Regions from separate parts of the Homo sapiens genome. Here regions 2 and 3 are each reported to be linked to region 1. Evidence: microRNA targets listed by miRTarBase, many of them from high-throughput screens and not tested one by one. Region 1 holds a microRNA gene; each other region holds the end of a gene's coding sequence.
Evidence for each region. Region 1 holds the annotated microRNA hsa-miR-3121-5p (UCCUUUGCCUAUUCUAUUUAAG, at 1,140-1,161, opposite strand). A microRNA usually pairs through its seed, bases 2 to 8, with sites in the 3' UTR of a target mRNA and lowers its output. Matches are read on the target gene's strand: a 7mer-m8 pairs with bases 2 to 8, a 7mer-A1 pairs with bases 2 to 7 and ends in A, and an 8mer does both.

Region 2: the mRNA of SRD5A3 is a reported target of hsa-miR-3121-5p. Seed matches in the 3' UTR shown: 7mer-A1 at 2,470-2,476.
Region 3: miRTarBase lists BLTP3B as a target of hsa-miR-3121-5p. The part of its 3' UTR that is shown has no 7-base or 8-base seed match.

Annotation. Positions count from the first base shown.
Region 1 is chr1:180,437,219-180,440,347 of GRCh38, forward strand. MIR3121 (microRNA 3121) reads right to left here and starts at 1,172; the gene lies at 1,096-1,172. All of the region lies in intron 3 of ACBD6 (acyl-CoA binding domain containing 6), which reads right to left.
Region 2 is chr4:55,369,819-55,372,947 of GRCh38, reverse strand. SRD5A3 (steroid 5 alpha-reductase 3) reads right to left here. Exons shown (of 5, transcript NM_024592.5): 5 at 1-3,116. The coding sequence ends at 2,857. The region is part of intron 3 of SRD5A3-AS1 (SRD5A3 antisense RNA 1); the gene reads left to right. Among named protein-coding and RNA genes, the nearest start is that of LINC02928, 6.4 kb to the left of the region's middle.
Region 3 is chr12:100,035,065-100,038,193 of GRCh38, reverse strand. BLTP3B (bridge-like lipid transfer protein family member 3B) reads left to right here. Exons shown (of 21, transcript NM_015054.2): 21 at 439-1,122. The coding sequence ends at 558. Among named protein-coding and RNA genes, the nearest start is that of ANKS1B, 52 kb to the right of the region's middle.

The sequences.
Region 1 (3,129 bases):
CAGAACTCAGTTGAACCCAAAGAGGGGGTCATGGGAACCACAACTTGAAGCCAGTTGGTAAGAAATTCTGGAGACCGGGGCTTGTGACTGGTCAAGGGGTGGGAGGCAGTCCTGGGGACTGAGTCCTCAACCTGTGGAATCTGACACTATCTCTAGGCACCTAGTGTCAGAACTGATTAGGAGGATACCCAGTTGGTGTCTGCTGCAGAACTGCTCACATAATGTTGGGGAGAAATCCCCACGTATTTGGTCACAGAAGTCTTCTGTTGTTGTAGTGGTATGAGAGCAGAGGAAAAACACAGTTTGAAAGTTTTTCCTAAAATGGCATCCAAATTGGAAAGGAAGAGGTAAAGTTATCTGTTCACAGACAACAAGATTTTATATGTAAAAAAATCCTAAAGATTCCACCCAATCTGTTATTCAGCAAAGTTGCAGGATACAAAATCGTCACACAAAAATCAGGTTAGGTCTGACAGAGACAGACAATAAATGAATAAGTTTTCCAATATTAAAACCTAAGGAGTATTATGAAGAAAAAAAACAGGTCCAGGAACAAGGTTATAATTTGGAATAAGATGGTTAGGGAAAGCCTTCTAGAGAAGGCCCTTTGAATAAAGACAAAGGAAGTGAAGAAGTGAGTCTTGCAGGTATCTGGAGTAGATTGTTCCAGCCATAGGAAAAAGCCAGTGCAAAGGCCCTATGATGAGGGTATGCACAGAATGTTAGAGTAGGGGTCCCCAACCCCTGGGCTGCAGGCCAGTAGCAATACATGGCCTGTCAGGAACCTGGCCGCACAGCAGGAGATGAGTGGCGGTTGAGCAAGCATTACCACCTGAGCTCCACCTCCTGTGAGATCAGCAATAGCATTAGAGTCTCACAGGACTGTGAAGACTATTGTGAACTGCACATGTGAGGGGTCTAGGTTACGCACTCCTTATGAGAATCTAATGCCTGATGATCTGAAGTCAAATGGTTTAATCCTGAAACCATCCCCCTCCAACACTGGCCCCCTAATCCCTGCTGCAGAAAAATGGTCTTCCACTAAACCAGTCCCTGGTGCCAAAAAGGGTGGGGACTGCTGTGTTAGAGAACTTAAAATGTTTCTGTCCTTTGCCTACTCTATTTAAGGTACAGGGTGTCTTAAATAGAATAGGCAAAGGACATAACCATTTAAGAAGCAATAAGACAAGGTTGTTCATGAGACAATCATAGCTTCTATTGGCGCCATTCATTGACTCTCTTAAAGTGAAATAGACAATTGGGAAGAGATAGCTATGGTCCACTTGGTAATTATTTGCTGTGAAATAAAGACTACTAATTAAGAGTTACGTGGTAGTTCAAAAAAAATAAGTATAGTTCTTTTTTCTTTTTTATTTAGACTTCTTTTTAAAGCAAGTTTAGGTTTACAGAAAAATGAACAAAAAATAGGGTTATCTCATACCTCTCACATGTATACAACTCTCCCACCCACTGCCCCCATTACTAACATCTTGCATTGAGTGGCACATTTGTTACAGCTGATGAGCCTATATTAATACACTATTATTAATGAAAGTCCATAGTTTACATTAGGGTTCACTCTTGTATTGAACATTCTATGGGTTTGACAAACATATAATGACATGTACCCACCACTGCGGTACCATTCAGAATAGTTTCACTGCCCTAAAAATCCCGTACTCTACCTATTCACCCTTCCCTCCCTCCCCACTCTCCTCCATACTCTGAACCCACGGCAACTAGTGATCTTTTCACTGCTTTGTTTTACTCTTTCCAGAATGTCAAATGATTAGACTCATACAGTATGCAGCCTTTTCAGATTGGCTTCTTTCACTTAGCATTATGCATTTAAGGTTCCTCCATGTCTTTTCATGGTCTAATAGCTCATTTCTTTTTAAAAATTTTAAATTATTGTAAACATAAAATTTACCATTTTAACCATTTTTGGTATTTAACTCAGTAGTGTTAACTATATGCTCCTTCCCCTGGCCCAAAACACAAGATTTTTCTTGACTCTTTACCGTAAATGGGATTCTGGGAGATAAAACCTACCAAAGTGGAAGGCCCTACTAAGACTGGGGAGGGGCCGGGTGTGGGGGCTCACGCCTGTAATCCCAGCACTGGGGGAGGCCGAGGCGGGTGGATCACAAGGTCAGGAGATCGAGACCATCCTGGCTAACATGGTGAAACCCCGTCTCTACTAAAAATAAAACAACAACAAAATTAGCTGGGCATGGTGGTGGGCGCCTGTAGTCCCAGTTACTCAGGAGGCTGAGGCAGGAGAATGGTGGAACTCAGGAGGCAGAACTTGCAGTGAGCCAAGATTGCGCTACTGCACTCCAGCCTGGGCGACACAGCGAGACTCCGTCTCAAAAAAAAAAAAAATACTGGGGAGGAGTTTTTGACTCCCTAGTCCACACTCAGCCTCAAGCAATTCATCCATTACCATTGAAGTGTTTCTACCAGTTTATGGCCCAAGCATCTTCTGTTATCTTGGTTATGATTCTCTGTATTCACCTGTCTCTCCAGTTTTGGGGATGGCAGTTTGAACTGGTACCTCAATCTCTGATGGATCTAGAACAGTCTTTGATTTTCAGTTTGGTCAGATTACTGTTATTGTTAAGGAGAGGAGTGATAACTTGCAGGTTCTTCACATGTTGAGGCTGAAACTGGAAGTTCAGTGATCTTTTAAAGAGATTTTAAAATTTAAAAAAAGTCTTTAAATTTACCCATATATTTAGCACTTCCAGGACTCTTCATTCCTTTATGGAGGTCCAAATTTCCATCTTATATAATTTTCCTTTCATGTGAAGTTCCTTTAAAATTTACTATAGTTCAGTTCAGTTGGCAATGAATTACCTGCTTTTGTTTATTTGGAAAAAGTTTTTATTTATTTATTTTTATTTTTTAGATGAAGTCTCACTCTGTGGCCCAGGCTGGAGTGCAGTGGTGCAATCTCAGCTCACTACAACCTCTGCCTCCTGGGTTCAAGTGATTCTCCTGCTTCAGTCTCCAGAGTAGCTGGGATTACAGATGCCCACCATGACACCCGACTAATTTTTGCATTTTTAGTAGAGATGGGGTTGCAATGTGTTGTTCAGCCTGGTCTCGAACTCCTGACCTCAAGTG
Region 2 (3,129 bases), not on the chromosome of region 1:
TTTTTTTTTTTTGTAGGAATTCTAGCAATAACCACTCATTGAAGTAAAAATCGAATACAGGGCACAGCTTTGTAGAGACAAAATAATCCATGGTTAAGCAAATGTTAGTGTATAGGATGAGCTTCACAAAAACAAAGGCCATTTTCAGCACACTTTTAGTCAGTAGTTAATCAAGGGAAGGCTGCTAATGAGGTAGTTCAATGTCATTTCCCCGACTTAATGGTAGTAGAAAATGAAAGATTAAGGCTATTTAAGCCAACAGGAAAACCATGAATCTTTAAGCTATTTCTGGGTCCTTGTGAAGAATTTGCAAAGTCCCTGATGCTCTCCCTTTACGCACATGGAATATTTTCACCAACACAAAAAACAGTGCTGATTCTGACGCTGCAAGCACTGCACAATTCTCAATTATTTCCCATCGGTGACGCTTTCACCAAAGGCCATGCTACGTTGTTCTGAACCCCTTTCAGGACATCACTATCTCCTCTCTTATCTTTGCCTAGAAATATGATGTTTGGGCAAAGAAGGAAAAGGGATGAGTAAGAAACAGGGATGAGTGGGAGAGAGACAGCAGGAAACAGGGGTGGGAAACTGGACACTGCAGCTTTCTCACAACCCCTGACAGGGTGCGTCATGGGATGCTCGTTATTTTACTTAAGAGTACAATGAGATTCCAGAACATCAGCCAAATCTCTAGTCTAACCTGGGCATAAAATTGCATGCTAAAATAAAATACATTTTTCTCCAAATAATTTATTAAAAATTACACTTGATATTCATGTGGAAATTAAGACCAAACTGCAATGTTTTCCATTTCCAATGTACAAAAAGTTTTGTTCCTGAGAATGGCAAATTCTAAATGATAAGTAAAATAAATATGGCATTTATTTAAGTAGACTGAGCCACAGGTTAATCTTAAGTGGTGTTTGGTTGATGGGAGAGAAAATCCTCCATCAGAATTGTTGTAAGAACTTTCCAATGTGCTTGACATGCATCCGGGAGCAGTGACTTACACCTGTAATCCCAGCACTTTGGGAGGCCGAAGCAGGTGGATCACCTGAGGTCAGGAGTTTGAGACCAGCCTGGCCAACATGGTGAAACTCTATCTCTACTAAAAATACAACAATTACCTGGGCATGGTGGCATGTGCCTGTAATCCCAGCTACTTGGGAGGCTGAGGCAGAGGAGAATCGCTGGAACCCAGAAGGCGGAGGTTGCAGTGAGCCAGGATCCCACCACTGCACTCCAGTCTGGGCGACAGAGTGAGACTCCATCTCAAAAAAACAAAAAAAACAAAGGAATCTTAGTTTAACAGTTTTGGGTTACAGCTCCAGGGATGGGGGTGGGAATGATTGACTATGCATTTGATATGTGTCTTATTAATCATAAGGTTCTTTCCCCCATAGCAAAGTACATATAAATGCAAAGCTTTAGTGCTTAGCTGACTGTAATAGGACATCTTCATAAAAGGAATAAACTTAACACCTCAGCCAATAAGCCAGAGAATCTTACGCTGCACAAGTGTGCAGTTTTAATGTGTTGCTCAGGCTATAGTATTATTTTTTAAGTTTTTGGTTTTCTTTTATACCATGCATTTATTTCCCTCTGAATTAATCACAGGTATTTTCTTTAACATAAGCTATTTTAAGTATAAACTTTATTCCTGAATATCTTCAGATACTTTCTGCTAGTTCAAATAAACTCACACAGACATTAATCCAATTTGAATAACTACATATGAATGAGGCTACAGTATTATTCAATCCAGAGTGTGTCACTTCCGTTCACGAAGGCTTGCTATGCATAAATATAAAAATATTTTATCTTCTGATGCTTTCATTTTTGAAGCACTCCCTTCAAAGGATGTAAAAAAATATTAAATAAAAGAGCTTTCAAAGTGTTCTGTTAGGCTATGATTTGAGGGGGAGATGAATGGAAATGGATATTGATAGTTATTTAACTGGAGATCTTTGTGGTGATATGTGAAAGTATAAACTAACTCCAACAAACTCGTTTTTTCCTGAAACTTTTGGTGTAAAATTATATATTATTATTATTTTGAGACAGGGTCTTGCTCTGTTGCCCAGGCCAGGCTGGAGTGCAGTGGCATGACCTCGGCTCACTGTACCCTTGACCTCCTGGGCTCAAGCGATTCTCCCATCTCAGCCCACTCCCAAGTATCTGGGACTACAGGCATGTGCCACCACTCTTGGCTAATTTTCATATTTTTTCACGGAGATAGGGTTTCACCATGTTGCCCAGGCTGGTCTCGAACTCTTGGGCCCAAGCGAACTGCCCACCTTGGCCTCCCGAAGTGCTGGGATTAACAGGTGTGAGCCATTGCACCCAGCCTGTTATTATTTTGAAAGGTTATTCTGCTTTTACTGAAATGCAACAAACAGTTATTGAGCACCTGCTATATTATTATATAGTCCATTCCTACTAGGCTACCGCAGCCATTGATGATCTTCCTTTGTGTGTGTGTGTGTGTGTGTGTGTGTGTGTGTGTGTGTGTGAAGCTGTTTGTATATTTTCGGTTTTTCGGTTAGTTTGCTTGTGAAGCAGCTTGGAGAAGTCTCATCTACTTTTTATCAGTTGGTTGGTTTTAGAAAGCATCTCAGAAAGTGGACCCAGAAATCGCAGATCTGCCATTAGTATTTATTCTTTGAAGATACTTTGGAGATTCATTTTCTTGAGTGGCACTGCCATGCTCATTCAGTGAAAACTTGTGGGGTATAGAAATGGAATGGAGAGTTTCAAACAGCTTTGCTGAAACTGTACTTTGGGCTCCAGACTTCACTGTCCTTAGGCATTGAAACCATCACCTGGTTTGCATTCTTCATGACTGAGGTTAACTTAAAACAAAAATGGTAGGAAAGCTTTCCTATGCTTCGGGTAAGAGACAAATTTGCTTTTGTAGAATTGGTGGCTGAGAAAGGCAGACAGGGCCTGATTAAAGAAGACATTTGTCACCACTAGCCACCAAGTTAAGTTGTGGAACCCAAAGGTGACGGCCATGGAAACGTAGATCATCAGCTCTGCTAAGTAGTTAGGGGAAGAAACATATTCAAACCAGTCTCCAAATGGGATCCTGTGGTTACAGTGAATGACCACTCCTGAAAGGGTAAA
Region 3 (3,129 bases), not on the chromosome of region 1:
ACAGAATGTCAAATTTTAAGAGTTCTTAAAAAGTAGAAGAAAAGATGAAAAGGGCATACATAGGTTGAAATGGATAAATATGAAACAGCTGTGGCATAAAAGCCAGAAAAAGGAGAGAGGCTGAGAAAGTAGGTGTAGCTCAGCAATGTCTAAAGCCATAGAGAGGTCCAGGAAAATTCATATGAAATGAAGTCACTATTAGACTAGGAAATTAGGAGTTAGTATTTTGTATTGCTGGGTCAAAACATGGGAACATTTTTTAAGTGCTTGATACATGTTTCCAAATGTTGTCTCAAAGCAGTTTTCAGCTTAAGTGCACTCTCACCAGCAATGGGCATTTTTACTATCCCAAGTGTCATACCTTTGGATACTATATAAATAGTCTGTATTTCCTGAAATGATTAAATTATCTTATCCCCCCGCCATTTATCATTTCAGCTCATGGAAGAGAATGAATCTCTTAAACAGGAACTGGCTAAAGCTAAAATGGCTCTTGCAGAGGCTCACTTGGAAAAAGATGCTCTTCTTCATCATATAAAGAAGATGACAGTTGAATAGCAGGAGTGGCAGTCAAAACTGAAATTATAGCTCTGGAGTAGGAAGGTTATATTTATAATGTGGATGTTACCAGTTAGGGGAAGACTTTTATTTTCATGAAAAGACAATAAAACAAAATGGAATGTGATGAAGTGGTGACTATTTCAAAGCCAGTTTAGAAAGTATTAGTACGGGCATTACAATCTTTTGGTTGTTTTGTGTTTTGGGGCTTAACCCTCTTTTAAGCTGTTGTGATCTAGGGAAGTCAACACATAGTGTAAAATAATTACATGCCTAATGAAAAGAAGATGTCATTTCCTAATTTTGATATCTCATTTTCGGCATTTTTTAAAATGTAAAAGGAAAACCTCTTGTGTTCACACAGATTGCTGAATTGATTTCTCCATATTTGTTAATAATTTACTATTATTTACAAAGATTCAAATGCTTTTATGACTAATGTAAAATGAAAAGAGGCTTACATTTTAAATGTTATTAAAATTATGTACTTAAATCTATAATTATTTAATTATTGTAAAAAGTCCAAGCAGATCAATAAACTATATAATTAATGGGTTTGGAAAATCATCACCCTACTGAACTTACAAAATATCTTGAAAATGTGAAAAATATCATTTTAAATAATGGGTACATTGTATAAGTGGAAGCTATAATTTTCAACAAAAAGATGGTACAAATGTAAAAGTAAAAAGCACAAACTATACAAAAGCAAAATCTATGGCCAAGTGATTTAAAAGCATTACTTGTACATTCCTTTAAACATTTGTTGTTAGAAGCAAAAGAGTAATTTATCCTGCTAAATTTGGCACCATTTGTAATTATAAAAATTTTGATTAATACTATTTATATTAATTTCTTTACCTTCATTTTTTCTCCTTAAGGAGTTGATTGTTTTTGGAAATGTTTTTTTCCTTGCACATAAGACAGTTTCATACCATTCTTATAGAATCATATTAGGTGGGTGTTTGCACATACTAAATTTATAAAGCTAGTTTTGATTAAAGCTCTATGTGAGATATATATACATACACAAGTCTTCTATAATAAGAGTCGTTGGTGAATTTTGAATTCTATTTTGTTAGGAATTAAGGTTGAAATCAACATGAAAGAATCTCAATCATGCATTATAAAATAAAAGTACATGGGTGTTAAGAAACAAGAGACTTTTAAAGATTTAAAATATATTTCTGATAGAATTTAACTAAGTGGTGTGTATTTTAAAATTCACATTCTTAAACATAAATCTATCCAAGATAGAAAATGAAATAGCTGGACTACTCTTTCTTTAAGATACTTGAAAATTTTAAACCACATTGCAACACTTTATGGTGCTTTGCGTGTTTGGCATGACATACACAGTGGTCCTGGTATATAAGTGCTTGGGGGAAAATACATATTTTGTTTACATTAAATTTTGAAGTGATTTAGGCTTTATTGAAAACAATACTGGCCTTCCCTCCCCTTCTCTAACATCCATTTTCATTTACGTTATTTAAAATATACAGGCACTGTTTTGGGTACAGAGGATATAGCCAAGAGCAAATTGATAGTAGTTTACCTCAGAGTATTAAAAAAATCATAATAAGTCATGTTAATCTAAAACTATATAATAGCCTTAGATTAAATGTGCAGATGTCTAATTAAAGATTTAAAATGTATAGCGTATGTCCTTAGAACATTTGATTTTTAGGTATACATTCGGCAAAAACAGTCTGTTATGGAAAAGAAGGATTGATGGGACATTAACTTCTTCCGAGCTAACATTGTTTCTGAAGATTGACCTATTCTATATAAATTTAAATTTTTCTATGTTTTTCTTTTTTTTTTTGCGATGAGGTTTCGCTCTTGTTGCCCAGGCTGGAGTACAATGGTGTGATCTTAGCTCACCGCAACCTCCGCCTCGTGGGTTCAAATGATTCTCCTGTCTCAGCCTCCTGAGTAACTGGGGTTACAAGCGCCCACCACTACGCCCAGCTAATTTTTGGTATTTTTAGTAGACACAGGGTTTCACCATGTTGGCCAGGCTGGTCTTCAACTCCTAACCCCAGGTGATCCGCCCACCTCGGCCTCCCAAAGTGCTGGGATTACAGGCGTGAGCCACCGTACCCGGCCTCTATCGTATATTATAATTGCTTATTGTTATAGAAGCTGAATGTTTTACTTACTACTTTTAAATTTATTTGGTCTTCCCAAGGAAATCATACAAACGGTAGAGATTATGATAATCTGAGCATTCTGTGTGCTTAGTTTGATTTTTTTATTTATAAGCAGTACTATTTTTATAGATGTTTAAAATTCATAAAACACTGTATTCTGAGAGGTAGGTATTATTCAAATGTTAGAAATTTTTTTTAAAAAAATGCCCTGAGGCTTAGAAAGGACAAATGACTGAAATCACAATTAGTAATCTGGTCTTTAGACTTAAAGCCTAGTTATATGCTTTTATTATAGCTTAGTCATTAATTCACACATTTTCCCTTATCTTTTTTATCTTTTAAAGGTGACCATAAAACTTTAAATTGTGTGTGTACGTCTATGTATGAGGTATATGTTACCCTGTTTGTGTTATTC